Linked DNA regions of Homo sapiens. The protein of the gene in region 1 purifies or fractionates together with the protein of each later gene. This does not show direct contact. Each region holds a gene or a part of one and is shown in the gene's direction. Other genes may lie near its edges.

Region 1 (16,191 bases):
GGACAGGGGATTGATCTCCCAAGGGAGCTCCCCCGATCCAAGTCACGGCACCAAATGTCATTAGTTAAGGCAAGAATCTGCCATTTTCACTTCTTATGTGATTCTTCAGTTGCTTCAGGCCATCTGGATGTATACGTGCAGGCTTGGGCTCAGAGGCCTGACAGTTCCCTAAGAAAGTGGCTCCTGTTTTATTTTAGGGGCACATTTTCGGGTTAACCATTTTAATGTGTTTTTTCTTAGTCTCGAGTGATTGTGCAACAGCCAGGAGAAAGAAGCTTTCATTCTTTCTATCAGGTTAGTAATCCATTATACAGATAATTGATCATTTGCCCAGTTGTGCAGGAAATGAGTATTTGTGTCTTGGGCTTTCCCCTGTCCTATGCATCACTCATCTCCATTGGCCCCGTAACATGTCACGCATGCACGCACGCACGCACGCACCACATGCCCTGCCCTACCTGCTTAAGAGATTGGATGAACATGACTGTTCCACCCAGCTGGCAGGAGCTTAGCCAACCAGATGACTGCCTTGGGTGAGCATCCCCCATATTTTCTTGCAGTACAGATAACACTTTAATGACTGTGAAAGCTTTTGAAATGGTACATTCTAAATGTTAAATTAATTTTTGTTTTATTTTGAATTGAAGCTGTTGTTTCCATATTTGGGAGTTCTAGAGATCAGAATACAAATTCAGTTTGTTTCACTCATACACACTAAAAGCAATATGATTACTTTTAAAAAAACAATCTGGATTTATAACTTCTAGGGAGGATTGCCTTTTTAATCCATCAAGTTTAGAAAAAAATTTGAGTATTTATTTTCAAGAGTGCTTTTAGATTTTAAAGCAAAATCTTTTAAATAGCCTTCCTGTTGGCAAGTCTTTACACTTAGAAAACAAGTATGATATATTATTGTAAGTTTTTAAAGCCCAAATTAATGTAAATCAAGGTTAACAGAAAGTAACTGAACGGTGACAATACAATTGGATGCAATTCAGTCGAATTCAGTTTCTTCTAGGTAACTGCTTTAATAGACACTACTCATTTGTATATATAAGTTCTGGTATATTAAGTTTAAAAATCAATTTTTAAAATCTGATAATTAGACTTTTTAAGTAAACAAAAGCATACAGTTTAATTTAGAGAATTTAAACCTAATACCTTCCAAAAACATGCTCTATATAAAAGCACTGTCAATATTGTGTTTATGGTTCTGTTGGCAATTTGCCATGTTTTAAATAAGCTATTTTTCTACCAAATATAAAAGAGTTCTGTTTATTTCAATAACCTGTAACTTTTTCCCAGTGTTCTTCCCACTTGGGTGAAAGTATTAAAATTTATCTTTATCCAATACTACAATCATGGTTCCCCAGCTGTCCTCTTTTCCTGAGAGGTACAGATTGATGAGGAAAAGCTGTTTGTTTCCAGTGTGATTCAGCATATGACTGTCTGCTGATGTTTCTTACTTCCGTAGCAATATTGACTTTTTCTAAATTCTGAGACAGAACTATATCCTGTCTATAGTGAGGCTGCTAAGCAAGCAACCACCACAGAGCATAGGATCCTGTTTTACAAATGACGGCATTCAAAGCAAGAAACTTTTATGCCAGTTATATTGTAAATGAGATGAGACATTTTCAGAGTAATTTTCTTTATGACTGCATAACATTCTCTGTAACTGATGACATTGAAGCCATTTACCTTGAATGTTTAAAAAAACAAACAAGCAAAACTTCAAAGCTAGAAACAGGAAGACATAAGTGAATTAAGCCCAGAAAATGAATAAAAGCTAGATTACCACTAAGTTCATGTTTGGTTCAATGTATGTCTGGCCAATTTATTTCTAATTAAATATTTTTCAGCTACTCCAAGGAGGTTCAGAACAAATGCTACGCTCTCTACATCTCCAGAAATCCCTTTCATCCTACAACTATATTCATGTGGGAGCTCAATTAAAGGTGAGAATTTCCTCTTTGAGATTGCTCCAATAGAAAATCAGTCAAAGGATTAGAAGAGACATTCAATAATTATCTGGTCAAGCCTGCTATCTTTAGGCAAATAAACATCTCTTTTATCCTGTTCTATTTTTTAAATTCTCAAGGACAGAGATTCAGCACATTTTTGAATCAACAACTTTGCTTAAAATCAATTATGATATTTTATCACCATCTGACAGGAAAGAAGTTTTTTCCTACATTCAATGTTTTATTTTAATTTTTAATCCTATCCCTATTCCGTTTATTTTCACACTATAAAAATATTGATAGGACTAGGAAGCCTACCTCCTAAGAAGATTCCATATGATTTGGCCAAAGGCAAGTTAGTAAGACAAAATTAAAATGCACTTTGATTCTCCACTCACTGTTTGTTCAAATGTTGATTTTGATGTACCCTAGAAATAATTTTGTGACCTTTGAGGCATTCCTATTCAGCTTTCAAGTTTTTCCATTTTTTCTCTTTTCTTGCATGCAAGCACTTGCATACACTTACATGCAGGCGTATTTTTGCTCTTTTATTTCTAGTTCATTTTATTTCTAGTTCATCTAGTAATTTTACAACTAATTATAATAATAGTTTGTTGATAATAGTTACACTATTATCCTATTTCGTAGGAGGGAAGGTATATAAATGCATATAATAAGATATGGTAGGATATAGATCACAGTATTAATTATTTATTCTAGATGGGTGAGATTATGGATATTTGTGTTCTGTTTTTCCTTATTTAAAAAAATTCTACATCAAAAACTTACTGCTTTCATATTTGGGGGAGAAATAAAAGAAACTGTAAAGGAAAAAGATCTAAGATATGGGAGCTATTTCTTTAAAAAATTCTATTAATCAAAATAAGCTAATTATACCTGCATTATTGGTTTAGCTGTATTTTTATTGCTGTGCATAGAAATTAATGATATTTTGGTTTTTGCAATTAATTTTCCATTATTTGACATTTAGGTTACAACAACTTTACTTTTATGGTCATCTGAGAGCGAGCAGGATGTTTGGCTGAAAATGAATTAAAAACAAAAAACAGTAGAGGGCAACACTCCACCTCTCTGAGAACTAGCCAGAGGCACTTAAAGAATTGTGAAATCAACACCTGGAAAGCCAGTGACTGGGAATGTTTGTTTTCAAATTGTCTTATCGACTAAGTTACTTTTGACCAAGTCGTGTAGAGTCCCCACAGAAAGCAAGTATTAAATTAATAGCCTTTTTTCTAGGTTAAATTTAGCTTAGATTCCCTTTTTATCAAAAATTTCCATGTCTGCTTTCCCCACCTTTTTTTTTTTGCTTCCTAAGAAAACAAAGAACTAATAAATGATCATAGTCAAAACCTAAACTATGAACCAAAAGGAAACAAAAATACACTAAATCTTACCATACAGAAATGATTATTGATAATGGTTTGCATCTATATTTATAAATGGAATCATACAATAAATCCTAATTAAATAAACCTGTTTTTATTATAATCTTTCCATGCAAACAAATATAAATTAATATAATAATTTTTATAACTATTAAGTATTGCACTGTGTGTATCTTAACCAGTTCTAAAATGCAGGAGTCATATACAGTTAAGATATTTTGGGTTGCAAGTAGGAGAAGACCCAATTAAAAGTCTCCAAAAACAATAAGAAACTTAATTATCTAGCATAACAAGAAACTCTGAGATAGGACAATTCCAGAATTAGTTAGTTCATTGCCTTAACAATGTTGTCAGGGACCCAGGTGTTTTTTTGGTTGTTTCCCCAACTTACAACTCTGCCACACTCATGGACAGCTCTGTCCTCTTAGGCTGGTTTTCCTTTTAGTCCCAAAATGTCATCAGAATTTCCAGGAGTCACCTGCAAAGGAGATGTTCATGGCATATGTCCTTTATAAGCTAGGGAAACCTCCCCAAGAACCCTCCTCCACTCATCCCCCATAAACACTTTCCCTCATGTTGTATTGATCAGAATGGCATCCCATGCCTGTGGCTAACCAGTCATTTAGTAAGGGAAATAAGATCACTCTGATGAGTTTAGACCAGTGAAGATTTACCTCTTGAGGCTAGGTAGATGCCAGTCACAAAGGACATGCACACTTAGAGAGGAGTAAACAAATCAGGGTTCGATTGGCAAGAAAGAAATGAGGGTAGAGGATGGCTGTTAGGTAAGCAGCCAACAGTTCCCCACAGTAGGACATTTAGATTTTATCCAGTTACTTTCCAACTTCAACATGGTTGCAGTTTATAATAATAGTAATATCTGATACTGCTGAGTGGTTTTTTTTTGTATGCTGGTGCTAGAGAGGTGCTTTATATAAATTTTCATTCAATTCTGACAACCACCCTGTAAGATATATGTTATTATGCCCATTTTATTTGTGAGGAAGTTGAGGTTCAATGAGGTTAAGTATCTTGTCCAAGGTAAAAACAAAAACCTAGGAGGAGGAGGGGCTGGCCTGGTTGTCTCCTGGACACTAGAGGAACTTGTACTCACCAGGCAGAGAGGTCCCCTTCCAGGGCCCTTCCTCAACAAGTGAGCATCAGGCCAGGTCTCTGTATCCAAACAAGAGGAGAAACTTACTGAGGAAAGAATTGGTCAAGCCTCTGCGGCTGCTGCTGTGGTAAAACTAATATAAGCAGTTACTATTGCTTTATTGCGAATTTCTGTTTACGCACTTGTATTTCCAATGTGATGGCCACAGCTCTAAAAGGGCAGGCGATTCATCTTTGAGCTGCCTGTACCAGTTAGTAGAGCTGACTTGTGAAATGCGTATCAAGTGAGTGAAAGAATGAAGTTATAGTCCCAGACTATTTAATAGCTTACTAAATGACTGAGGCTGGCTGTTTTGCTTTTGAGGGCCCGCCTTGCCTCACCTGGAAAATAAACCGCCTGATTATACGAGAGTGAAGTGTTGTTGCCAGCCTAAATAAGACAATTGTGGAACAAAGAGCCACAAACAACAGTAGCCAAGCATGTATCTTGGAGGCTCCCACATTCAGCACTTGCATTTGTGATCTCACATCCATGCTGTTGCCTTCACTGATCATGGAGTGGGGGATCAGCTTGTCTGAGCCAGCTCAGGACTTGCTCCCTCACTGAAGGTTCCAGAAAACGGCACAGTGCTTATTTTAGGTGATGGCTTTCACGCACAAGTGGGCTTTGTACGTGCTGAATAATGTTGCAACTCGTGAAATCATTTTTATTTTCTCTGGAGACTCACCATCCCCTCAAGTGATTTACTATGAAGGCAAAACCTTGGTATAACTTAGTTTTATAATTGTTGAATTTTAATGCTCATAGGAAATATCTGTAACTTCAGTTTTTCATTTTCATCCCCAGTCTTCTATCAATGATGCTGCCGAATTCAGAGTTGTTGCTGATGCCATGAAAGTCATTGGCTTCAAACCTGAGGAGATCCAAACAGTGTATAAGATTTTGGCTGCTATTCTGCACTTGGTGAGTAGGGACACCTCTCAGAATGTATTGTCTTCTGCTGAGAACAGGATGCTTTCTCAGAAGATTTTGTTTTTTCCCTGTAGATTTAAAAAGTATTCAGAGAAAATTTTGTACGTATTTTGAAGAAATTACTATGTCTGTGGTTCTTGCCATCATTTTATAATATTATGAGGGATTTTCCAAGCTACTATAGGGTTGGAGACTACTACTTCAGTTGATTGTCTTACTGGTATTGTCAAACTTTGAACTGGTTAATTTTAAGGATAAAGGAATTCAGCAGTGATGTGACTACTAGTGGTATAAATTTCTAGTGGCATTTGAAACATAGAATCATAGGTTATCGGAACTGGATTTTTAATCATCTCATTTTACAGATTGGGAAATAGCCCTGATGGGTGGCATGACTACCTCAAAGGCACAGCCAGCTCATCCCAGAGCCAACACCATAGACCACTTTTGGGCCACTTGTTTCCCACTATACCACACCAAACTTAGAAGTGAAGAACTGTGTGTTAGATTTCTTTCATTAACATTTATATAATTAGAGATACTTAAAATACACTGAACATATAATCTTACAATAAGAATGACAACATGGATTCAAATCTGGAATAAAAATTACTTTTCACTTAATATAGCAAGATTTAACTCTAAATGAATCAGAAATGTGCAGGATCTTTATGAAAAATATTATATAGCAATATAAACAATAAATGTTCCTGACTAGGAAGACTTTAGTATTATAAATTGTCTCATCTGTTTGAATCAGTTTTTAAATACAGTGCAGCAGTCCTTTTCAGAATCCAAACAAGAATTTTATTTTTTGTTGTTTTGTTTTCTTTTTGAGATGGAATCTCGCTCTGTCACCCAGGCTGGAGTGCAGTGGTGCAATCTAGGCTCACTGCAAGCTCCACCTCCCGAGTTCATACCATTCTCCTGCCTCAGCCTCCTGAGTAGCTGGGACTACAGGCGCCTGCCACCACGCCTGGCTAATTTTTTTTATTTTTAGTAGAGACGGGGTTTCACCATAGCCAGGACAGTCTCGATCTCCTGACCTCGTGATCTGCCCATCTCAGCCTCCCAAAGTTCTGGGATTACAGGCGTGAGCCACTGTGCCTGGCCTTTATTTTGTTTTTAACTTGACCTGTTGATTCTAGAATTTACCTGGAAAAAGATCAAATAAAGTATATTAAAGAAGTGTCGTATAGGGTAGGGTAAGGGAGGAGAGGGAACATGACTAGTTCTACCAAACTTAAAATGATAGTAAAAGCTAGAGTACTTTATAACTTTGCACAAGTTCAGCACCAGATCAACAGATTAATCAACTGATTGGTTAATGTGCTGGACATTTGGTAGATGGTTATAAGTATGTATTGCTTATTGAATGAGTGGAATATAAATAGACTCAAACACTTGAGGAGATTTAACATATTAAAAAGGTGACATTTCAGCTGGGCGGGGTTGCTCACACCTGTAATCCCAGCACTTTGGAAAGTTTGAGGTGGACAGATTGCTTGAACCCAGGAGTTCCAAGACCAGCCTGGGCAACATGGCAAAACCCCATCTATACAAAAAATACAAAAATTAGCCAGGCATGGTGGCACGCATCTGTAGTCCCAGCTATTTAGAGGGGCTGGGGGTGGAAGGATCGCTTAAGCCTGGGACGTTGAGGCTGCAGTGAGCCATGGTGCACCACTGCATTCCAGCCTGGGTGACAGACCCTGTCTCAAAAAAAAGGTGACATTTCAAATCAGAAAAAGCTAGACTGTTCAATAAGTCCCGTTAGAGCAACTAATCATGTGAAAAATAAAGTTAGATTCTTACTTGATACCATGTACCAAAATCAATTGTGGATGGATTAAAAAGTTTAAGGAAAAAGGCCAGGCGCGGTGGCTCACGCCTGTAATCCCAGCACTTTGGGAGGCCGAGGTGGGTGGATCATGAGGTCAGGAGGTCGAGACCATCCTAGCTAACATGGTGAAACCCTGTCTCTACTAAAAATACAAAAAATTAGCTGGGCGTGGTGTCAGGCACCTGTAGTCCCAGCTCTTCAGGAGGCTGAGGCAGGAGAATGGCGTGAACCCAGGAGGCAGAGCTTGCAGTGAGCCAAGATCGCACCACTTGCACTCCAGCCTGGGCGACAGAGCGAGACTCTGTCTCAAAAATAAATAAATAAATAAAATAAAAAGTTTAAGGAAAACAAAAACTATAAAAGCATTAGAGGAAAGCATCAAATGCTCATAAACCCTTTGGAGTAGGAATGGTCTAAGTATGACACCAAAGAAAGAGAGACCCTAAGGCAAAAGATTCATAGATTCGATTACATAAAAATGTAAAACTTTTATCTATCAAAAACATACACTGAAAGCAAAAAGATAGATGAGTGTCCGGAGAAAGGGAAAAAGTAGATGAAACACTGTTTTTATATGTTGAGATGTATAATGTATTTAGGAAAATAGGTACAAACAAGGTCACCTGAATTGTATTTTATATTGGCAAATATATCCTTGACATAATGTTTCATAATGTGTTATTTTTTTCACTTTTGATACAGGGAAATTTAAAATTTGTAGTAGATGGTGACACGCCTCTTATTGAGAATGGCAAAGTAGTATCTATCATAGCAGAATTGCTCTCTACTAAGACAGATATGGTTGAGAAAGCCCTTCTTTACCGGACTGTGGCCACAGGCCGTGACATCATTGACAAGCAGCACACAGAACAAGAGGCCAGCTACGGCAGAGACGCCTTTGCCAAGGTGAGAGTGTAACTGACCCTATGTCACCTGGTGTTGATCGCAGTTGCAAATTGAGTGAAATCCTGTGAGCATGTATTCAGACATTCTTGAAAGAGGGTTAAGGCTTTTAGAAACCATAATGATACTTTCTGGCCATACAAGCCTCGGTAAAACTCCCAGATGTAAGTAAGCATCACTGCCAAAAAAGGTTCTGAGAAGAGTGGAAGCTGACTGGGGGTGGCGCTCATGAGGGCTTCACGTGCTGCTTCTCTCACTCAATAATGCTTCGCCAGAGTCAACTGACTGAGCTCTGATCCATTTTTTTTAAGTTTTATTTATTTTTAATTGACAATAATTGTATATGTTTATGGGTACAGTGGGATATTTCAGGACATGTACACATTATGGAATGATCAGATCAGACTAATTAGCATACCTCTTACCTCACCTACTTACCATTTATTTGTGGTGAGAACATTTAAAATCCACTCTTAGCAATTTGAAACAATATTATTAGTATTATTATTAACAGTCACCACGCTTTGCAGTGGATCACCACAAATTATTCTTCCTGTCTAACTGAAACTTTACCCTTTGACTAACGTCTCACACTTTCTCCATCCACCCCGCTCCTCTAGCCTCTGGTAATCACCATTCTATTCTCTGCTTCTATGAGTTTGACTTTTTCAGATTGCATATAGGTGAGATCACACAATATTTGTCTTTTTGTGCCTGGCTTATTTCACTTAGCATAATGTCCTCCAGGGCTGTGTACTAAGCCTGCAGTGATAGTACCACAATTTATTTAACCACCTTACTCTTAAGTCACCCACTTTACTTCCCTTTTTTGCAACTGCAAACAATGCTGCACGTCTTTATACATCTATGCTTATATACTAGTGCTTTTGTTTCAGCTGGATGGATTCCCAGGAGTGAGCTTGCCAGGTCAAAGGGTATACTTATTTTATTTTTATTTTTTGAGACGGAGTCTTGCTCTGCCATCCAGGCTGGAGTGCAGTGGCACAATCTTGGCTCACTGCAACCTCCACCTCCCGGGTTCAAGTGATTCTCCTGTCTCAGCCTCCCAAGTAGCTGGGATTACAGGAGTGTGCCACCACGCCCAGCTAATTTTTGTATTTTTAGTAGAGACAAGGTTTCACCATGTTGACCAGGCTGGTCTCGGACTCCTGACCTCAAGCGATCTACCTGCCTTGGCCTCCCAAAGTGCTGGGATTACAGGCGTGAGCCACCGCACCTGCCATATATTTATTTTAAACTTTAAATTTACTGATTTTATGGCTGCATGGTAATATTTTATTGTTACTTTTATTTCATTACTAGTATATTTGAGCATCTTATCATATTTTTGTAGAGTATTTTAACATATTCTAAGAATTGCCTGGGTATATCTTTTGTGCATTTTTCTTTGGAGCTGTTATCTTTTTATTGTCAATTTCTAAGTGTTCTTAGCATATCATAAACTTTAACCCTTTGTTATCTGTGTGGCAAGCGTTGTATTTTCTCACGTCTAACTTTCGTTGTTGTTGTTTTGCTGGTTGATTAGTTTACTGTCTATTTCATTTTTTACTCTTGTAAGTCTTAGGCTTGGTTTTTAGTTTTGGGGGAATTTGAATTTTTCCTAAGTGCAATGGAGAGCAATAGGGAGGACTTTAAGGAGGGGCAATGACATCAAGTTTGCCTTTTTTTTTTTTTGAGATGGAGTCTCGCTTTGTTGCCCAAGCTGGAGTGCAGTGGCACAATCTCAGCTCACTGCAAGCTCTGCCTTCCGGGTTCATGCCATTCTCCTGCCTCAGCCTCCCAAGTAGCTGGAACTACAGGCGACCGCCACCACGCCCAGCTAATTTTTTATATTTTTAGTAGAGACAGGGTTTCACCATGTTAGCCAGGATGGTCTCCATCTCCTGACCTTGTGATCCACCCTCCTCGGCCTCCCAAAGTGCTGGGATTAGGTGTGAGCCACCGCACCCGGCCGTTTTTTTGTCTTTTTTTTTTTTTCTTTTTTTTTTGAGACGGTGTCTCTCTGTCACCCAGGCTGGAGTGCAATGGTATGATCTCAGCTCACTGCAACCTCCACCTCCCGGGTTCAAGCAATTCTCCTGCCTCAGCCTCCTGAGTAGCTAGGATTACAGGCACCCGCCACCATGCCTGGCTAATTTTTGTATTTTTAGTAGAGATGGGGTCTCATCATGTTGGCCAGGCTGGTCTCAAACTCCTGACCTCAGGTGATCTGCCCACCTCAGCTTCCCAGAGTGTTGGGATTACAGGCATGAGCCACTGCACCTGGCAAGTTTGCATTTTTAAAATGATCACTCTGGCCTTAGTATGGAGAATGTTATGGGGGCTAGAGTAAGAATGGAAGCAAAGAGGTCAATTAAGGGGATATTTTGTTAATCCAGGAAAGAGATGAGGGCAGCTTGAATCAGAAAAGTGAAAGTACAAATGGGGAGAGGAGGATGATTTGAAATGGACTGTGTTGAGAAAATAAAATCCATAGGACCTATTATGTGGAGAATGAGAGAAGCAAGAATAATACTTTAACATGGTCTGGCTCCAGCCCACCTCTCCCACCTCATTTTATACTATACCCAGCCCCCCTTTCTTCAGCCCAGCACATTAGTCTTCTCTCAGTCCTCACAGATTATCCTGATCCCTTTCTCCTTCCAGTCACAGGGCCTGTGCACATCTGTTCCCTCTGCTTGGACTGCTCTTCTCTCCTCTCTTGCTTGGCTACCTCTTACTCATCCTTCTGGTCTCAAGTATCACTTTCCCAGAGAGGCCTTCCCTAACCTTCCTGAGCACTGCATAGATTAAATTTCCCTAAGACCCCATGTACCTCTCCTTTAGTGTGGATGTTTATCTGCGAGGTGGGGGGCAAGTGAGAGAGACAGAGAGAATAATTTTTTCCTTCACTCTATTCCCTAAGTTTCTTGGACATTGAGACTATGTTTGTGTTTGCCTAGACCTGTATCTCTAACAAACTATATATAATAAGTATTCAGCAAATATTTGTTGAATAAATCAGTGAATTTCTAAGTGGTGCTATTTATTTGTGGCTAAAAGTAGGATAGGAACAGTTGTTGGAAGAGGAAAGATCAAGAGTCCTTTGAGTTTGAGATGGCTGTGAGCCATTGAAGAGTCAGTGTCAGGTAGACAGTCAAGCTCTTGAGTCAGGAGCTCAGAGACTGTTCTCTGAGTCTGGATTTGGATAATACTTTTGGGAGTCATATTATATTTGTATTATTTAATCCTGGGTGAGATGATTTAGAAGGTGCTAGAGAGTGAAGAGAAGAGGACCAGGAAGAACTCCAACTTTTACAAGTCAGGTAGAAGAGGAGACTCTACCAAAGGTCACCAAAAAGGAACATCCAGTGAACAAAGAGTAAAATTCAGAAAGGCTATTATCCGAAATCCAGAGAGAAGAGTGTTCCAAGAAGGCAGTGAAAACCTAGGTTGAGTGATGCTGAGCGACAGAGCAAGATGTCCATATGAGGTACGAGAAGTATCTATGTAGAGGTGCTGGGAGTCTTTGATGAGCCATTTCAATGGAGTAATAGGATGTAAGTGGAGACTGGAGTGGATTGAAGAGTAAAGGGGAGGTAATGGATATGGGTGAAGAGAGTGGGTAGCTGGCAGGAGACGTTAAGGAAGGTTTTCTAACGATGTGACGTTGCAGAGCACATGTGTATCGGGATGTGAATGTGTGTTAGCGTGTGGCACCTTTGTCCATGTGTGGCTTAGTGTGTGTGTTCTTGTGCATTGGATGTGTGTTCGATTCTCAGGGAATTTCAACCCTTGATCTTTGGCTCAGATCTTCATTTAGCATTAGAAATCAATATTTATATTTTTTAGAATTCATATAGCTTTAGTGGATCATAGATATTAACTCACTAGCTCTCAACTCTTTATAGTTGATGAAATTAATAATAAAGCAATGAACTGGCTTATTCAAGGGATCAGGCAAACTATTGATATAGCCGGGCAGGGAAACATGCCTGGAGAGTGTCGTTGGAATTGGTATAATGACCGGTAATAATCTTTTAAAAATACAAGCTATTTACTTTAGTTTTGCATACATCAGGTAGTTTGGGTTTTTTTAAATGGACAGTCTACATTTTCATTTGTTCTGCTGAGGCCAGTAATGGCTATGCTAAACAGTGAGAAGGTGGACAGGAATTTAAAACTGATCACAAATCCAAACAGAGGACTCATTCCCAAATTGGCAAGCATTTATGATGCTATTTTCCTTGCAGGCAATATATGAGCGCCTTTTTTGTTGGATCGTTACTCGCATCAATGATATTATTGAGGTCAAGAACTATGACACCACAATCCATGGGAAAAACACTGTTATTGGTGTCTTGGATATCTATGGCTTTGAAATCTTTGACAACAACAGGTAAACTGGAAAAGATACTTAAAACCTTGTTGCCTGTTTTCTATTTGTTGAAACTTAATTTATTCCTTTTCTTGTAGTTTTGAACAATTCTGTATCAATTACTGCAATGAGAAACTGCAGCAGCTATTTATTCAGCTGGTTCTGAAGCAAGAACAAGAGGAATACCAGCGGGAAGGGATCCCCTGGAAACATGTGAGTGGACTCTTATGGAAAATGCCTTCATGTGTTTCTCATATTATTGATAATGTCAAATTTTATTTTAGGTATTTCTTGATCTTTTGGGGGTATTTGAAACATCTGAACCTTAGCTTTCCTTTTTGGGATATGTAAATACAATTAATTTCATCATTTTTAGGTGGGATTGCTATAATTTGATAGACTGCCTTGTTGATGCCCAGAACATCCTGAGTTAGAACCAGTAAACCTGTTTTCACTTTATGGCTGCTACCACGTGGACTTACTGGTTTATATCTGTCTGTTAGGTTTAGCATACTTTATTAAGTTATACCTTAAATTGGCTGAACTTTGCTTCAGAATCTAGTTTCTTCTTCCCTTTTTCCTCCTTTTTCTCCTCTTCTACTTTGTAGACTATATGGTATTTTATTGTCTTCAGTTAATGTTGTTTATATTCTCTGAAACCTACACATTAAAATACTTGTTTTACTTTGCATTTTCTTGTGTATTACACTTCAATTATCACCTCTACTCTAATCAATCTTTGGGAACTTTTGTATTTGTCAGAGGCAAACTAATCTGGTAAGATATAGCTGGAAAGTATAATGGGTGCACAGTGCAAACCACAGAGATCAAAGCTAAAAGGCATGACTTGTTTGGTTTTTAAATTTCCTGTGATAAGACCTTCTGTTTATGATAGAAATGAGACATAGTAATTTTTCTTGTAAGTTTGTATTTTTAAGCAATTTTGAGAATAAACTTGAAAAATACAAAAACTTTTAAGTTTCTGTAGTTTGAGTTTATATGATTGTTCATCCTCTTGCCAGAGAATAGAAATGAAGCCAGTATTTGTTTTTTGTTATCCAATATAATAGCAGCAAAAAAATATTTGAAATACTATATTTAAATGACTTTTATCTTCCTTCCTACCTATTTTCTATTTCCTCTCATTCTGAAATAAAGAGACAGTGATATAACAAATAGCTTTCCCGCCTCAAAATTGTATCTGCCTTCCATCATGTGTTAAACGTTAGAATACCATAAAACAGTTGCTCAGGTATATTGGCATAAATTTTACCTATCTGCATATAAACCAAAGGGCTATTTTATATAAGAATTATCTATAGTTTGACTTAAATAATGAACTCTCCTAATACAATTAAAATTTAATTCAGTTCAATTAAGTGTATATGAAGCTTTCTAAGAATGAAACTGTTGTATAATATAATACACGGTATAACTGAAGCTTGGATTTTTAATACCAAATTTAATCATAAAACTTGTTATTCAAATGTGATTCCAAGGTACTAGTCAAAAATATCCTTTCACAATCAGAATATCAAATTTCACAGACATAATTGACAACAGGGTAAGTAATGCAGTGGACTGTTCCAAACATCTCAAAAAGAATTAAGAATCCCAAAATGCAAAAAATTTTCGCTAAATAAACCAAGAACTATTTGTCCTAGAGGGAGCAGAAGGCTAACTCCAAGGTAACAGTTACTTACTACATGGCAGATCCCCCCACAATTAGAATCTCTATTCTGGGTAAAACCCCAAACTTCTAAACATAGTGATTCTTTTTAAAAGATTTTTTATTATGGAAAATTTTAAACACACATTAAGAAGACAGACTATAGTACAGTAAACCCTATATACCCATCACCTGGCTTTAACACGTACCAGTTGATTGCCAGTCTTATGCCATCTGTACTATACCCACCTACTCCCAGATTATTTTGAAGCAAATTTCAGATATCACATTATTTCATCTATTCAATTGGGTATCTATTCAGTAAATATTTCCATGTATTTCTCTAAGAGAGTTTTACAAAAACCATAATCACAATGCCATTATCATACCTAAAACATTAACAAAAATTCCTTAATATCATAAAATATCCAGTCAGTATACATGTTTCATATTTCCTTAATTGTCTTCTGGTTGTTGTTTTGCAGGTTAAATTTGGATCCAAATAAGTTTCTTACATTATGATTGATTGATAGGTCTCTTGCATATCTATAGATTTTCTCCATGTTTCTTTTTTTCCTTGAATGATCTCTCTTTGCAATCTTGTGTTGAAGAGAATGAGTCATTTGTTATGGAGTTCCCCACAGTCTGGATTTTGCTAATTGCATTCCTCAGGTGCCATTTAATATGTTTCTCTGTTTCTTGTATGTCCTGTATATTGGTTGTTAGATCTAGAGTCTTGACTGGATTCAGAGTCAGTTTTTTTCCACAGCCCATTTCATAGACTGTGTGTGAACTTCCACCAGGAGGTTCATAATGTCTGGTTATCTGGTACATTCACTTTTAAAAGCTTTCGATGCTGTAGTTTGCAAATCATTTTAACTATTGAGAACTTGATACTCAAGCACAAAGCTGTTTTATCTGGAGTGGGTATGAAAGGCCAGAGCCCCATGTCCCTAAGCTACCCCATCACAAGTCTTCTGGCTCCTGGTATCCCTTAGGAAACCTTACGGGAATGCCAAGTTGCTGGAAGAACTTAGTTTGAAAACTACTGGTTTAAGCAATGTTTGAAGCAGTATTAAACTTACAAACTGAAAGTTACTAGCAGAGACCAATAGCTTTTAATAATATAATTGGGATTTTAGGGAAGGTAATTCTTTAGTCCCTGGGACAAAAGACTTCGTCTTTAATTTCACAGTCCCGAAGTCTAAGATGTCAACTATTAATATAGAGCTCCTGCTTTTTGAGTATTTTTAGGATTTTTTTTCCAAAGATGGAAATAACTTTTCTCCCTAATTAGAAATGTAATAAATGCCCATAATGAAAGTAAATATTTAGACCTACACTGCTTCACCTCAGTACTACTGAGATTTTGTGCCAGATAGTTCTTTGTTGTGGAGGCTGTTCTATGCATTGTAGGATGTTTAGCAGCACCCCTGGCCTCTACCCACCAAATGACAGTAGCACCCCTACCCCATTTTGACTAGAAATGTCTCCTGATATTGCCAAATGTCCCCTGGTGAGCAAAATTCCCCCTATTCCCCTATTTGAGAAACTTTAGTTTAGACAGATCAGAAAAGTATAAAAAACAAAGTAAAAACTACCCAGTTTACAGGTTTCAGTCCATAAGATACAGAAGAGAACATGCAAGACTAGAAATGGAGCTAAAAGCCATGTACAAATAACTGGCATAAAACCTTGGATTTTAAAGCATGAAATGGGAATACATGAGTCACTTGAATGGTCTATTATGAGTATATAGACCTTATAGAAGGTAATGGAGACAGCAATCAGTTTAGGTAACTCCTGCGTAAGATGGGACATAGCAAGATTAAACTGTGTGATCATAAGCTGCCCCTCTTTGAGATGTGCAGCTTGCCTGAGTTGGCCTTTCTTTGTGTGCCTTCTGTGTGTAGTGATAGGTACATTGCAGGCTGTCAGAATA
Region 2 (16,191 bases), on another chromosome or scaffold:
GCTGCAGGGCCTGGAGGAGCCACACCCCTCCTGGCTGCTGTGCCTAGTGTCCGCCATGCCAGCTAACCTTCCCTCCCGCTCCTCTGAGAACTGCCCAGACTCCACAGACCCATCCTTCCTCCTTACTCCTCTGGACATGACGTGTCTGCACACGCTTTTACGTGGAAGCCCATGAGGCCGGGAGCTTCCGAGGGTGAGGGCAGGCTCTGCAGCCAGGCACCCAGGGTTAGGATTCTGATTTGATCACTTCCCAGCTGTGTGACCTTGGGTAACTTATTTCACCTCTCTGTGCCTCAGCTTCATCTGGTAAAATGAAAATAATGGTACCTGTCTCCACTGTGTTCTGAGAATGAAATAAGATAATCCATGGAAAACTCTGAAAACAGAAACAGCATTTAATACTCTAATTAGCTATTATATTATTTTTATTCCCAGCACCTAGCATAGAGATGGAATAGTTTCTTAGTATGAAATGAAGATTGAGTTACTTTTAACTAATATTTTTAATGCACATATGTAAAAAAAGAAATGTTTTTTTGAGGCGTTCTCTTTCTGTTGCCCAGGCTGGAGTGCCGTGGTGCAATCACAGCTCACTGCAGCTCTCTGGCTAAAGCGATCCTCCCACCTCAGCCTCCTGACTAGCTGGGACTGCAGGCCCACGCAACCATGCCTCATTTTTTCTATTTTTTGTAGAGACAGCCATGTTGCCCAGACTGATCTCAAACTCCTGGGCTCAAGCGATTCCCCTGCCTCAGCCTCCCAGAGTGCTGGGATTATAGGACTGAGCCACTGTGCCCGGCCTATAAATATTTTTAATTAAAGTGCTGACACATCCACACAGGCAGCGAGGAGGAGATTTCTTCTGTTTTAGTTTTCTAGGAATGTTATGTGTAACAGAAAATAATACAGTAGAGTTGCACCACATGTAAATTTGACTTCCAAATTCAACTGTGGGTTCCTGGCAAAGAAACCGAAAAAGAAATCTCTACCTACCAACTAGGCCTTGGCCTCTGTGCATCAGGGAAAGGAGGCTGTAATAGAAATGCAAAGAAAAATGAAAAAAAAAGTTTAAAGTGAATTATGGATGACTTAAGGGGCTTCCAGGAGTAATTCTGGGGGCCTTTTGTGACTCACTGCAAGCTGTGTGATTCTGGGTGGAATCGTTTTCCCGTGGGCATCCTCCCCCAGGCCAATCGGGAGGATCTATCCTGTGGCCTTGCTTCTTAGGTCAGGGTCTGCTTGAGGAGATTTGACAAAGCAAACAAATCAGTCCCAAGCAGAACAGCCGGGCTGTGACACAGCCTTGAGCGGGTGCCACGGGCTGGAGCAGGTGACAGGCCCAGCCTGGCCTGGAGGGAGGGTCAGAGCTGTCTCCAGCTGGCAGAAGAGCCTGGTCAGGGAGGGAAGGAAGGTGGTCGGGGCAGGCGTGCCAGCAGAGACGTCTGGTTCACAGTCACACTGGCCTCCCGAGCATAGTGCCGTAGTGCTCTTGTTCCTAAGAGCAAGAAGGCTGAGTTGTGCCTTGTGAAGGAGATCCGTGCATGCGAGCAGCTTCTTTCAGGCGTGAGTGATAGTGCTGCTGGCCGTGAGCTCAATGCCAATCGATCAGGGATACGTATTAAATAAGGCATCTTTAAACAGAAACATGTAAAACAGTTATGTATCGGTCAGTCGACAAGAGTGTGATTAGAGGCTCCAGGAACCTAACCCTGTGTTCCCCCAGGGTACTGGTTCAGGATTCGCTAACTCAGTGTTCGCGGCCACCTTACAGAATCTGACCACCTGAATAACGAGAATCTGCCATGTCTTGGCTGAGGCTGTCTTCATGCCTGGTGGGTGGGCCTCCTGTCCCACCCCCGGACAGCTGAGAATGATTCAGGGTGTCATTCACTCCTCATCCTTGTGTTCATTCAGTACAGGCAAAACCCCAGAAACAGGTGCTGGGGGTAGGGGAGCCAGGCCAGGCAGAGATCTCCCCTCATCCCTTTGCTCTTCCCCCGGGGCTTCTTCCCCGATTCCTTAATGGGAGCAAACAATTCTTCCAGCCTTTGAAAGTGGCATCGTGCTGCCTTCTCTACGTTTTTGTTTTGTGTGTTGTTTTGTTTTTTGAGACGAGGTCTCACTTTGTCACTCAGGCTGCACTGTAGCCTCCGCCTCCCAGGCTCAAGCAATCCTCCCACCTCAGCATCCTGAGTGGCTGGGACCACAGGTGCATGCCACCACGCCCAGCTAATTTTTTGTATTTTTGGTTTCGCCATGCTGCCCGGGCTGATCTCGAACTCCTGGGCTCAAATGACCCTCCTGCCTCAGCCTCCCAAAGTGCTGGGATTACAGGCATGAGACACGGCGCCCAGATTTTCTCTACATTTTTTTTAATTTCCGTTGGGCCTATGGAGGACAGGGACCCCCTCCCTCCTAGGTGGGGCAGACACAAGGTAAGAAGGTGGCCAGGAGAAACTGAAGAGAGGGACAGTAGCTACTCGCCTGCCCAGCAGGAGCCTCGCTGGCCAGGGGCCTGGAGTCTTGTAGGAAGCTCCGGCTGCTTATCTGTGGATACCTAGATGCTCAGGAAAGAGCTGGACTCATTTATACAAAGTATGACTGTGTCTGATTAATCACCTACATAGCAAAAGCCACATTAAGTTCTTTCAACTTGAGGAAAAGTGTAAGTTAGCAAGCTTGCAGGCACACAGACTATTTCTAGGACACATAGGAGACTTAGTGACTCTCCCTGTTGGCTTCAGGGACAGGTGGAAACATTCTCTCCCACACGACTGTGATTCAGCCTGGACGTTTAATTTTTTGTTTTTTTACCAGGACCATTTATTACTTTGTTATGCACATATCCATCAGCTTAAGAGGGAAAAGCAGCTTGAAGATTCTGGTCACTTAGATTTAGCAAATGAGGTCACCCACTTTCATCTCGCTTCTTTGAATGTGCGTTTAAGGCCTGGGGAATTCATGATTTTTCTTTTACTTTACCAAACCTCTTCTAGGTTCTTCCCGCAAAGAGATCACAAAACACTGGGAATGGCTGGAAAATAACTTGCTCCAGACACTGTCCATCTTCGACAGTGAGGAAGATATCACCACCTTCGTCAAGGGCAAGATACACGTAAGGTTTACCCGCCACTCTCTGTTCTCACCCTTCCCTGGCCAGCAGTGTTCTCGTGTATTATCCTATTTCATCTTCACGATGTAGGGTGCGTCCCCATTTTACAAAGGTGGAGACTGAAGTGTCAGCGCTCCTTCTCTTGGAGTTGAAAGGGGCAGAGGAACTCGTGACCCAGGAAAACCCCTTCTTACCCTGGGTGGGCACTGGAGGCTGCTGAAGCCTAGTGCGGGGCTTCCATTCCTACCCAAGTGCCTTGGAAGGCGTACGCAGATAGACGGTTCTGTTTGCCAGAAGAGATGCTGGAAACAATTGGATATTTTGAGTTGTTTTTTATAATAAAACTAACGTTATTTTAAAAGACACATGCCCTTTACCCAAAAATTCCATTCTTGGCGTTTACCCTACAGTGTATTCATATATGCAGAATATACAGTTTAAAGGGCCAGGTGTGGTGGCCCACACCTATAATCCCAGCACTATGGGAGGCCGAGGTGGGTGGATCATCTGAGGTCAGGAGTTCAAGAGCAGCCTGGCCAACGTGGCAAAACCCCATCTCTACTAAAAATACAAAAATTAGCCAGGCATGGTGGCACGCGCCTGTAATCCCAGCTACTCAAGAGGCTGAGACAGGAGAATTGCTTGAACCCAGGAGGCCGAGGTTGCAGTGAGCTGAGATCGTGCCACTGCACACCAGCCTAGGTGACAGAGTGAGACTCCATCTCAATTAAAAAAAAAAGGCCAGGTGCGGTGGCTCAGGCCTGTAATCCCAGCACTTTGGGAGGCCAAGACAGGCAGATCACGAGGTTAGGAGATCGCGACCATCCTGGCTAACACAGTGAAACCCTGTCTCTACTAAAAATACAAAAAAAATTAGCCGGGCGTGGTGGTGGGCACCTGTAGTTCCAGCTAATCGGGAGGCTGAGGCAGGAGAATGGCATAAACCCGGGAAGCAGAGTTTGCAGTGAGCCAAGATGATGCCACTGCACTCCAGCCCAGGCGACAGAATGAGACTTCGTCTCAAAAAAAAAAAAAAAAAGTAGAGATGGGGTTTTGCCATGTTGGCCAGGCTAGTCTCAAACTCCTGACCTTAAGTGATCCACCCACCTTGGCCTCCCAAAGTTATGGGATTACAGGCATCAGCCACCGCACCTGGCCTGAATGTATATGTCTTTTTCTTTCTGTTAGGTTATTGCCTTAAGTTAGATTCATGGGAGGGCTCTTACCAGGTCAAAGTCGTGTGGTGCAAAGTTGCTTTGGGCAGGCCCATGTGAATTCCTGATACCAGAACTTCCTAAGCCTGGACAGACATTACCAGCTTTCTCAGCTCTTCTCAGTGCACTTTGGGGTTCAAGGTGAGACCTGGTTACCTCTATCTCCAGGAAAACAGGTGGAGAGAGCAGAAGCAAGCCTTTACTCTGGTGAGCAATTGGGCGATGATAATAATAGTAGTTGTGACATTATTCACTGCCTCCTATATGCCAGGCCCAACAAACGCATCAGCAGAACAAACCAAATGACTCATAGGCCAAGGAAGAAATGGAAATTAGAAAATATTTAGAATTGAGGCCAGGTGTGGTGGCTCACACCTGTAATCCCAGCACTCTGGGAGGCCAAGACGGGCGGATCACTTGAGGTCAGGAGATCAAGGCCAGCCATCCTTTGCCAACATGGCAAAACCCTGTCTCTACTAAAAATATTTAAAAAGTAGCTGGGCGTGGTGGCATGGGCCTGTAGTCCCAGCTACTCGGAATGGAAGACTGAGGCAGGAGAATCACTTGGACTTAGGAGGCAGAGGTTGCAGTGAGCTGAGATCACACCACTGCACTCCAGCCTGGGCAACAGAGCGAGACTCCATCTCAAAAAAAAAAAAAAGAAAAGAAAATGATTGAAATACTACTGCATGTCAGGATGTGTGGGATGCAGTGAGAGCAATACACAGAAGGAAATTTAAAGCCTTCAGTCTTACAAAAGAAGGAAGGATGGGCCAGGCGCAGTGGCTTATGCCTGTAATCCCAGCACTTTTGGAGGCCGAGGCGGGCGGATCACGAGGTCAGGAGATCGAGACCATCCTGGCTAACACAGTGAAACCCCATCTCTACTAAAAATACAAAAAAATTAGCCGGGCATGGTGGCGGGGGCCTGTAGTCCCAGCTACTCGGGAGGCTGAGGCAGGAGAATGGCATGAACCTGGGAGGCGGAGGTTGCAGTGAGCCGAGATCATGCCACTGCCCTCCAGCCTGGGCAACAGAGCGAGACTCCGTCTCAAAATACGCTGTGAGGAGCATCTTTAAAAAAGCAAAACTCTAAAGAGAGAGGATGACAAAACAGCCTTAAACCAGTACCTTTAAGAATTTAGACAAAATGGGGCTGGGCGTGGTGTCTCACACCCGTAATCCTAGCACTTTGGGAGGCTAAGGCAGGTGGATCACTTGAGGCCAGGAGTTTAAGACCAGCCTGGCCAACATGGCAAAACCTTGTCTCTACTAAAAATATAAAAAATTAGCTGGGCATGGTGTCGCGCACCTGTAATCCCACCTATTTGGGAGGCTGAGGCACAAGAATTGCTTGAACCCGGGAGGCAGAGGTTGCAGTGAGCCAAGATTGCGCCACAGCATTCCAGCCTGGGCAATAGAGTGAGACCCTGTCTAAAAAAAAAAGAATTTAGACAAAATGGGCACTTTATTAGAATAACATTTATTAATTTCCAGTTGCTTCTGCAACAAATTACCATCAACTTAGTGGCTTAAAAGAACACCAGTTTGGCTAGGCGCGGTGGCTCACACCTGTAATCCCAGCACTTTGGAGAGAGATGTTTAGATCGCAGCTGCGGTAGCACTGGTATAAGAGAAGAAAAACCCTTTTCCTTCTCCCCATTTAGGTTCTTGGCTGGGGCTCTGTTACAAAAGGCAGATTAACAAGACAAAAACAGAAGTTTACTAATGTGTGTATCTCATATATTCATGGGAGAAACTTGGATAGGTGACTCAAAAGTTTAGTTGGAATTGGGTTTACACAGCCTCTTAACACAGGGACAGGCCACTTAAAGAACAATAACAGGACAGACGAAAACAGCTTATGCTTCCAAGGGCAGGAAACTGTGAGAAGATAAATACGTGGGATGAAACCGATGGAGTAAGGTTTGTTTGCAGATGCGTGCGGTGTCATCTCTGGGCTGATAGGAATCTAGAATTGTCTCCAATAAAGGAGAACGTATATCCAGCTTTTAGGCAGAAAGGGGGAGGGAGGGCAGAAAGAGCTTTTCCTGTGTTTGCTGCTACTTAATTGCCTTCAGCTCAAAATACTTCTTATGTCAAAAGGGCATATTTTGGGATGGCATATTGTAGTTTCCTTCCCTGGCTACTCAGAAATAGAAGAAATCAGAACAGATCCCACCTTTCAGTCCTCACCTAGGCTCATGGCTGTCCTCACTGCCCATGGACAGAGGGATCGGGGGTGGCCCAGCCACCAGCACTGACCTTGACTGACTAGTTTATCTTGTAATTGTCTTTCTAGAAAATCAATGTGTACATTTTGAGCTGAGGGCACTGCTGAGGACCTGTTTTACCCCAGGAGGCTTGGGGCTGGCTCTGTGGCCCAGGGGGATGTCTCTGGGCACCCTGAGCCCTGTAACAATGCCAGCAGCATGAGGGAGTATGGACGGGCCCTGAAACTGCAGGTCCTGCCGCTGGTTTGTGTGCAGGGCCAAGAGGCAGGAGCCCCCTGGCATACAGGGGGCCAAGTGCAGGACGTCCTCCAGGATGTGATAAGAGAAGCGCTTTACAGAACAGAGCTGCAGGGTGATCCCATTTGGGCAAATAAAGGGGGAAAGAGGAAAACATACATTTGCTTATGAATCCATTGGTGTTTGCATGTCTGGAAGGAACCAGGAAAGTCACTACAGAGAGCGAGAAAAGATTCCCTTTTCACTGAATACACATTTCTACTGTATGCATTTTTTACCATGTTTATGGATAATGTTTCAACAATTTTACATGAAAATAACTGAAATATTCATTTTAAAAGTGTCAGGCCAGACACAGTGGTTCACACCTGTAATCCCAGCACTTTGGGAGGCTGAGGCGGGCGGATCACTTGAGCCCAGGAGTTTGAGACCAGCCTGGGCAACATGGCAAAACCCCATTTCTACAAAAAGTACAAAATTAGCCAGGTGTGGTGGAGTACACCTATAGTCCCAACTACTTGGGAGGCTGAGGCAGGAGGATGGCTTCAGCTGTTGGGTTGAGGCTACAGTGAGCCGTGGTTGAGCCACTGCACTCCAGCTTGGGTGACAGAGTGAGACCCTGTCTTAATTTTTTTAAAAAGCCTCTGCTCACAACTGGTGATGACAGTAGTTACGGGAGTTGCAGGAACTTTGTCTAGAGAGTCACACAGGCAGCGTCTCTCATCCATGTGCCTTGACTGCAAGCCAGCAAGAGCCACTGACTGTTCCCAGCTGTGCCTGTAGCCCTTAGACCAAGGTCCATGAGTCCTGGGTTCCCTGGGCCTCTCTGCTCCACCCTTTGACCTGTCCGGGACTGTGCAGGGCAAGCCCTTGTCCTCTTGCCTTCCTCCAGGGAATCATCGCAGAAGAGAACAAGAACCTGCAGCCCCAGGGAGACGAGGACCCCGGGAAGTTCAAGGAGGCTGAGCTGAAGATGCGGAAGCAGTTTGGGATGCCTGAGGGCGAGAAGCTGGTGAATTACTACTCCTGCAGCTACTGGAAGGGCCGCGTGCCCCGGCAGGGCTGGCTGTACCTGACGGTCAACCACCTGTGCTTCTACTCCTTCCTGCTGGGGAAGGAAGGTGAGCCCGCCCCTCAGTGTGCCCCAGCCCCCACACCCTCAGCCCCTCCCTGCCTTCGGCCCCCAGATACTCCATCCCCACATGGCCACCAGAGGGGTCTCCCTGAAACCCAAATGCCACCTTAGCGGCCCAAGATGGGACTGTCCGGCCTTGGCCAGGCGTACACCTGCTCCCAGCCGACTTTTACCATGCCCCCCACTCGCTAGTAGGGTTCTCTACATGGTGACTCCGCGTGCCTGCCCTGCCCTCTTCTGCTGAACTGGCGTATTCAGGCACACGTCTGTCCCAAATTCCTGGTGATTCCATGTCATGCAATGCCTTGGGTGCGTGCCACAGCCCTCATCTGCTGCAGGTTCCTCCCTACAGACATCCCGGCCACAGGATGCGAGCCTGATTTCCCAGCAGCTCCAGAAAGAGCCCCAGGGTCTTAGCCATCCCCAAGCCCACCAAGCCCTCCTCCCTCCTTGCCTCCCTCAGCCCACAGCCTCCCTGTGCCCCCTCCTGCCCTTGCCGCTTACCTGTCACGACCAGGTGGCCAGTCACCTCCCGTCAGCAGGGGCTGTGTCCTGTTCTGTGTTGGCCGCGCTGTGCTGTGACTGTTCACACCTCCGTGCGCTCCCACTTGGGGGAGCTGCTGGGTGGGTCTCGGTGGTTCACCTCCGCACGTTCGTTCCTTTCCCCTTCAGCCACTGGTGGGGGAGACACTCACCGTGTGTGGTTGGTCTGGAAGGCAGTGGACACCTCAGTGGCCTGGTCCCTCCACATGGAGGGCGTGACACAGCCCAGACAGGCCTGGGCACACAGGAAGTGCTGCCCCCAGAGAGCAGTTCCCTGGGATGGGTCTGGGGTACAGATGGGCATCAGGAGCCTCGCCCTGCCAGGCCCTAACTTGCGGTGTGTCTATCTCTGTGGGCACAGTGAGCCTCGTGGTGCAGTGGGTGGACATAACGCGTCTGGAGAAGAACGCCACCCTGCTCTTCCCCGAGAGCATCCGTGTGGACACCCGCGACCAGGAGCTCTTCTTCTCCATGTTCCTCAACATCGGCGAGACCTTCAAGCTCATGGAGCAGTTGGCCAACCTGGCCATGCGGCAGCTGCTGGACAGCGAGGGCTTCCTGGAGGACAAGGCCCTGCCTAGGCCCATCCGGCCACACAGGAACATCTCAGCCCTGAAGCGGTGCGTTGCCCTCCAGGGCTGGGGTGGGCTCATGTGAGCCAGGTTCGCTGACCTTGGCTGGGACCTGCCTGGTCCAAGTGTGTAGACCTGGAGAAGGTGTCCACATTCACCCCTCATGGGCTCCCCACTTGGGAAGGAAGCCAGGTAAACAGATCATTGCAGTCCCGTGTGGAGAGGCAGCAGGAGATAGCAGTGATGTCCTGAGGATACCACTAATGGGGAGGAAGCTCTTCACACTTTATTCCTCTTGGCCCTATGATGGGAAGGGGCTCTTACCATCCCTAGGTATCAGACAAGGAAGCTGAGGCACAGAGAGGTTAAGTAACTTGCCTGAAGTCCCTCGGTTAGTGAGCAGTGGAGCCAGGATGTAGCCACCTCAGCCAGGGTGTTCTGACACCCCCAGAAAGGCTTTGGTAAATCTGGGCTCAAGTGCACGGCCTCCGTCCCACCGTGATTGACAGCTCTCCTGTATACCCTGAGACTCCTTGGCCAGAGGCCTCTCACAGCCATGGGACCCCCAGGGGTCCTGAGTTTGACGTGGAAGCAGACCTCTGGGTCTGAAGCCAGCCAAGGAGATGGGCCATGTGTGGGTCTGAGTTCCCTGCTGCCCTGTCCAGGGGACCGATAGGCAGGAACACATCATAGCAGCCAGCCCTCCCGGGCTACTTAACGTTTGGGTTCCTAGGTTGTAGCTTATGGGAAACTCCAGAGGCTGGACAAGATCTCTGAGGTTCCCTGGGTCCCACAGCCAGCCTGACCACAGCCAGATTCACACCCTTGTGTTGAGCGACCTCATTCCAGCCAGGCCATTTCCTGCATTGCACCCACAGACTGTGGTCCAGGCCCAAACTCTGGGGTCCACCTCCAGGACCAGAAAATTGTGCAAGCATGTTGTCCTTGGGATGCAAGTGACAGGTTGGCTTGTTGGACCTTTTGGAAAGAACACGAGCAGAGATGGAACATGACTGCTCCTGGCACTGCCGGTGAGAATGCAGTCAGGCCCTGGTCAGGCCACTGCGGCCCAGGGCAGGCAGGAGGCTCCCTTTGGGGCTGGGAGAGTTTATGTGGACAGAGCCACCAAAGGGGTGAGGGCCTGGGCCAGGCCACTGTCACAGCCATCAGATACACAGGTGTGCATTTCTGTTAGCAGCCGCATGCTTTAGTTTAAGCTCCACACCTCCCTGTGGGGAGCTCCTCACCTAGGTTTCAAGGTGAAACCTGGGGTTAGGCCTGCCCAGGGTGGAAGAGCTGCCCGGGGCCCTCCATCTGAGTGGGATCCAGGGCAGGTGCTCTGGGCTCTGCTTGCCCATCAGTACCGAGGGATGGGTTGCACATTGCCCAGGCCAGCATCTAGGTGTGTCCTTTTCAAAGCAGTCTCAGGACACATTGCTTGCTGGCCACTTCTCCGCTGGTTATGTGACTGTCTCACCTTCTGCCTGCTCACTCAGCATGCATCTTTTATTGAACTCTGAGGTCCCTGAGCATGACTTGCTCAAGGGACCACCCCAGGGATCCTGAATCTGATGTGGAAACAGGCCTGGGGAGGCCCCAAGGCTTCCTTGAGAGTGTGCTGGTCCTGACCTTGTCCCCTTTCCTCCTGTCCTCCTACCTTGTTTCCCCAGAGACCTGGACGCCCGAGCCAAGAATGAGTGCTACCGAGCCACGTTCCGGCTGCCCAGGGATGAGCGGCTAGACGGCCACACAAGCTGCACCCTGTGGACGCCGTTCAACAAGCTGCACATCCCTGGCCAGATGTTCATCTCCAACAACTACATCTGCTTCGCCAGCAAGGAGGAGGACGCTTGCCACCTCATCATACCCCTGAGGGAGGTCAGCATCCCCTAGTTGAGAGGCCAAGGCCTTTCCAGCCCCGAGGTGTCAGTGGGCTCAGGGACCAGCCTGTCCTGCTCTGCCCTGTCTCACTGGGGGGTACCTGGGAGGATGCCCTAGCCCAGGCAGTCACATGTCACTCAGTGATGGGACAGGTGGAGGGTGTAGGACAAGTGAGCCCCTCCACAGGCACCTGCCCTGTTGGGGAGGCAGGTAACATGGTGGGGGCACACTGCTTGCCCTCTCAGGTCACTTGCCTAGTGGAGACAGGGTCTCCCACGCGTGAGTTTCCATCAGGCCTGCCTTCTGGGCCCTGCAGGGCAAAGTGCTGCTCCGTGGCTGCGCTTAGAGGACCGTGTTCCTGCACCGGTCCCATATGTCACTCTCAGAGGCCACCTCACCAGTCCTCTCTGGACATACCACCTTGGCGTGGCTCGGCTCCAGCAGGCCATCAGAGGTCGGCTCTCCCCTGTGGGGCGGCGTCGGCTCTCCCCTGTGAGGCTGCATTGGCTCTCACTTGCTCCTTCTTGGGTTTCTTGGACTTCCACAGTGACCCTGGTGGGAGCAAGGCCATCTGTCCTGCACTGCACCGAAGGGGTGTGGACAGCAAGGACAAGGGCCCTTGCCCAAATAGAAGGCATGAGACTGAGTCAGGACAGGTCCCAAGGCCTCCTTTTCCTTGTGGCCAAGCAGGGCTCTGACTGTTTAATTATAAGAAGAATCAAGTGAGATTCTTAACTTAAAGACCTCCCTGCCATTTGCACAAATCCCTCAAGTTGCAGATGTAGCTGAGAATAGGTGTGGGAGAGTTGCTGCCTCAGTTTCCCCAAGGGAAGTCAGAGGGAAGGAACTCAGAAGAGCCACAGCTCCAAAAGCTCCAGGTTAAGAGGCTCAGGTGTGACCCGAACCCCACATTCTGTTAGCACCAGGGCCCTGTGGATCTGTCCGGGGCACTGTACTGACCTGTCCCCCAGGCCTAGGGGTCTTCCTGACACCTGAGGCTCCGTTTGGATTTCTCCTGCCGGGCCCTTGACATCTCAGATGGTAGAGAGCCCTGGCGGAGCTCGGGGAGCAGGACTAGCTCACACTGGAGGACTGAGTGTGCTCTGGTGATGGAACTCTGCAGCTGGTCAGGGTGGGGGCCGCCTGCCCAGCCAGCGCTGACCCCTCAACACACCTGCTCCTCCACGTTCCAGCCTGCAGGCTTTTGCGCACGCAGCTCACTCTGCTGTGGGTGTAGTGGACTCTTGAATTTCACTCCCAACCACCCGCTTCCATGCTTCCCTCGGGAAGTGACCCCTCTTCCACCCTTTGCCCAGGTAAAAGCCACGTATCGGCCTAGATTCCGACCTCTCCCTCCTCCCTACAGCATGTCTTGCCAGCTCACCCCGCAGAGCTCAGCCCTTCCTCTCCACGGACACCACCTAAGACACCATCATCTGCTTTAGCCACTCCCTAACCACACTGAACCCCAACCCCCGCCTTTTTTTTTTTTTTTTTTTTTTTTGAGACAGGGTCTCACTCTTGCCTGGGCAGGAGTGCAGTGGTGTGATCATGGCTCACTACAGCCTCCATCTCCCGGACTTAAGTGATTCTCCCACCTCAACTTCCCGAGTAGCTGGGACAGCAGATGCTTGCCACCACACCTAGCTGTTTTTTTTAAATTTTTAACAGAGACAGGGATTCATCATGTTGCCCAGGCTGGTCTCAAACTTCAGGATTCAAGTGATCCTCCCTCAGCCGTCCAAAGTGCTGGGATTACAGGCCTGAGCCGCCACACCCGGCCTAACACACTTAGCCCCTTTATGGCGTATCCTCCCACAGCAACCAGCAAAATTCGAAATGTCAGTGGGAGCATGTTGGCACCCTGCTTAGAGTCCTCTAGAGTCTTCTCCCACCTGCCTCCTATGACCTGTGAGACCTTCTGTGCGCCTCTCCCACCTGCCTCCTGTGACCTGTGAGGCCTTCTGTGCGCCTCTCCCCCTCTCAGACCTGCGCCCAGGCACACCCCATGGATATGTTCACACACAGACATAAAAAGTGCACACTCAGACTGGGCGCGGTGGCTCACGCCTGTAATCCCAGCACTTTGGGAGGCTGAGGCGGGTGGGTCACGAGGTCAGGAGATCGAGACCATCCTGGCTAACATGGTGAAACCCGTCTCTACTAAAAATACAAAAAATTAGCCGGGCGTGGTGGTGGGCACCTGTGGTCCCAGCTACTTGGGAGGCTGAGGCAGGAGAATGGCGTGAACCCGGGAGGCAGAGCTTGCAGTGAGCTGAGATCGCACCACTGCACTCCAGCCTGGGCGACAGCGAGACTCCGTCTCAAAAAAAAAAAAAGTGCACACTCACCTCCACCACTGCCCAGCTCACACTGTCCTGGCTTCTCTGGCCTTCTCTTCCTCCCTCAGGCAGTCCTACTCCCCTCTGCAGGGTGACTGCTGTGCCCCCACCCATCTCTTCCCCAGCACTCACCTGGCTGGACCAGGTCTCAGCTCAGTGGCCGCCTCCCCTGGGACCACCCAGCCTTCCCTCTTCCCAGCACTCACCCCTGCTGACTGTGCTCAGCTGGTGCATCCCTCGTCCGTCTCCCTGCCAGGCCTTGGGCTCTGCAGAGGTGCCCACTGAAAGCTTGTCCTGTGCCCTCTACACCTCAGAGGGGTTCAGAGCCAAGCTCCAGGACCCCTGCTGTCAAAAAGTGTTCCCTGGGAACAAGTGCAGGGAACAGTCCTGCAAGCAAGGGACTGCTTGCCCTGCTTTCGGACAGCCTTCTGAGAGCCAGTGAAGGCCAGCAGCTGGGCTGAACACTACATCATCCTCAGAACCACCCTGCACAGCCGGTGTGCTCCCCGCCATCGACAGGAAAAACGGGCCCTTAGAGGCACAGGCAACTTGCTCGGGGTTAGGTGCAGCGGGTGGCAGAGTCAGAATGTGAGGACAGTTGGGCCACTCACTGCATTGTGCCCAGGAGAGGACAGCTGCATGACAGTCTGCCATTCACAAAGCATGCCCAGCTGCAGGGCCTGAGATGCAGACACCCAAAAGAGTTCTTTCACCTTCTCAGGTGACCATTGTCGAAAAAGCTGACAGCTCCAGCGTGCTGCCCAGCCCCCTGTCCATCAGCACCAAAAGCAAAATGACATTCCTGTTTGCCAACCTGAAAGACCGTGATTTCTTGGTGCAGAGGATCTCTGACTTCCTCCAGAAAACACCATCCAAGCAGCCAGGCAGTATCGGGAGCAGGAAAGCCAGTGTTGTGGACCCTAGCACAGAGGTGAGAAGCCCCTTGGGAGCAGCAGGGTCGAGTTGGGCCCAGGAAGAGCCAGGGCATCCATCAGCCTCCCCGCTGGAGCCTGACCCCATGGTTCCGGCTGTGGGCCTCCGCCTAGGGGTGGATGTGTCAGAGCTGGCAAGAGACCCCTAGCCCAGACCCACACTGCCCAGCAACATCACAGCCTCTCTGCACCCCCAGCCACACACCCGGTACTCCTCACTCCTGCTGGGCCCATTGCCCATGAGGAACCTTCTCTGGCTGTCCTTTCTGCATTGCTGCTGCACTCAGAGCAAAGCCACACTGTGGAGGCCTGTACACTTCGGCTTTGTTCCCATGACCTTCCCTGCCAGGCGTTCAGGCTGAAGTTCTTGACGGTAGAACTGCAGTATCACTATTGTACCAGCAAACTTAACAAGAATTCCTTAATATCACCAAATATTGTATTCACACTTCCCCGTGTGCAAGTGTACTTTTCACGGTTTGATTATTTGAACTGAGGCAGACGAAAGTCACACATGTCACTCTTGGTTGATAGGTCTCTTAAATCTGTTTAATCTACGGGCTTCTGCTCCACCTAGCTCTCGTTTATTCTTCCACAATATTTTTTTGAAGGAATCGGTCACTTGTGCCATAGAGTCTCTCATCGTCTGGTTTTGCTGATTGCATCCGCTGCAGGCGTTTAGCAAGCTCCTGTGTCTCTTGTTTAAGTTGGTTGAGCGGTGAGACCGAGAGCCGTGATCACATTCAGGCTCAGCTGATTTTGGTTCTGGCAGGTCCGCCTGTGGGCAGGCTTGAGGTGCTGTTTATTCCCAACAAGAGATGTCTGGCAACCAGCCACCTCTCTATGCTACTGTCAGTCATTGAGAATATGCCTGGATCCAGCGGCCAGTGGCCAGCGGCATGCTCATTCCATTCCTCCTTTCGTCTGGGAGCTGAAATTCTCCCAAAGAGGGAAGCTGACCCCAGGCACAGTTCATAGAGGAAAGGTGGAATACATGTTTTACTCTTTCCTCTTACTCACCAGTTGTCAAAATAATGATGAGTTGGTTTTCTAGTGTCTTCCACATGTGACCAGTGAGTTTTTTGGTTTACTTTTTATTGTAATTATGAACGTATGGATTTAAGCAACTTGATGTGTGTCTTTCCACTGGAATCACTATGCTTATTCTGTCTGTGGCCAGAGGGGCTCATCTGGTCTAGCCCTGAGAGTCCCTGGGCACGACACTGGTCGTCTTTGATTCCTTGCTTTCTGGTGTGACAAGATGGATGTGCTGCTGCTGTCGTTGAGTCTGAATTTGCAAAAACATTTGGCCATTAGAAGAGTCCATATGCAAATTCACAGATCCAGCTTCTCTAGAAAAGTCAGTGCCCAGCCCTAAAGGCCCCATCCCATTGGGCAGCGGGCGTGGGAGCTGGGGCTGTGCGTGTCCTCCATGCTCTAGAGCCGTGTGTGGTCTGGCCCAGGCAGACCTTTACATTGTCTGCCCCAGTAATAGATGCTAAATAAATTACTACGTCAGTGAGCGCATGGGAAGGGGTGGGCGGAATCAATGTGGATTGCAGACATGAAGAAAGGTGTGGAGAAGGTTGGGCTTCATCTGGGATTTCAAGAAAGAGTGAAGTTGGATTGAGTGGCAGGGGCAGTGAACAGGGTGGTCGAGCCTCCTCTGCCTCCATGAGGCCCCACACTTCCTGAAAGCTGAGTAAGCACCACTCACGGCCCCTCCCAGGCACTCGGCTTCATGCATCCAAACACATTTTATTGCATTCCTGTTAGGTGCCAGCTGCTATTCTAGGCCCCAGGAGTAGAACAGTGAACACATCGGACAGAGTGCCTGTTCACTTAGAGCTGTATTCCAGTGAGGGAGGCAGTAAGCAAATAAACATACAATATGTCAGGCAGTGATAAGGGCTGTGGGTAGAAATAAAGCAGGATGAGGGGATCAGGAGTGCCAGGGGAAAGAAGGGGGCTCCATTTTCTCTCTGTTGC

Evidence for each region.
Region 2: the proteins of MYO1D (region 1) and TBC1D9B purify together in Homo sapiens (affinity purification with mass spectrometry; 3 studies listed by BioGRID and IntAct, with this or other methods). This does not show direct contact.

Annotation. Positions count from the first base shown.
Region 1 is NC_000017.11:32,756,892-32,773,082, reverse strand, and holds part of MYO1D (unconventional myosin-Id), read left to right. Parts: intron 1-240; coding exon 241-294; intron 295-1,862; coding exon 1,863-1,958; intron 1,959-5,330; coding exon 5,331-5,447; intron 5,448-8,001; coding exon 8,002-8,205; intron 8,206-12,455; coding exon 12,456-12,601; intron 12,602-12,678; coding exon 12,679-12,793; intron 12,794-12,956; coding exon of another isoform or gene 12,957-12,971; exon of another isoform or gene 12,972-13,271; intron 13,272-16,191. UniProt on the Homo sapiens protein: Unconventional myosin that functions as actin-based motor protein with ATPase activity. Plays a role in endosomal protein trafficking, and especially in the transfer of cargo proteins from early to recycling endosomes.
Region 2 is NC_000005.10:179,886,113-179,902,303, reverse strand, and holds part of TBC1D9B (TBC1 domain family member 9B), read left to right. Parts: intron 1-2,996; coding exon 2,997-3,115; intron 3,116-7,689; coding exon 7,690-7,918; intron 7,919-8,836; coding exon 8,837-9,095; intron 9,096-10,717; coding exon 10,718-10,925; intron 10,926-13,991; coding exon 13,992-14,201; intron 14,202-16,191. UniProt on the Homo sapiens protein: May act as a GTPase-activating protein for Rab family protein(s).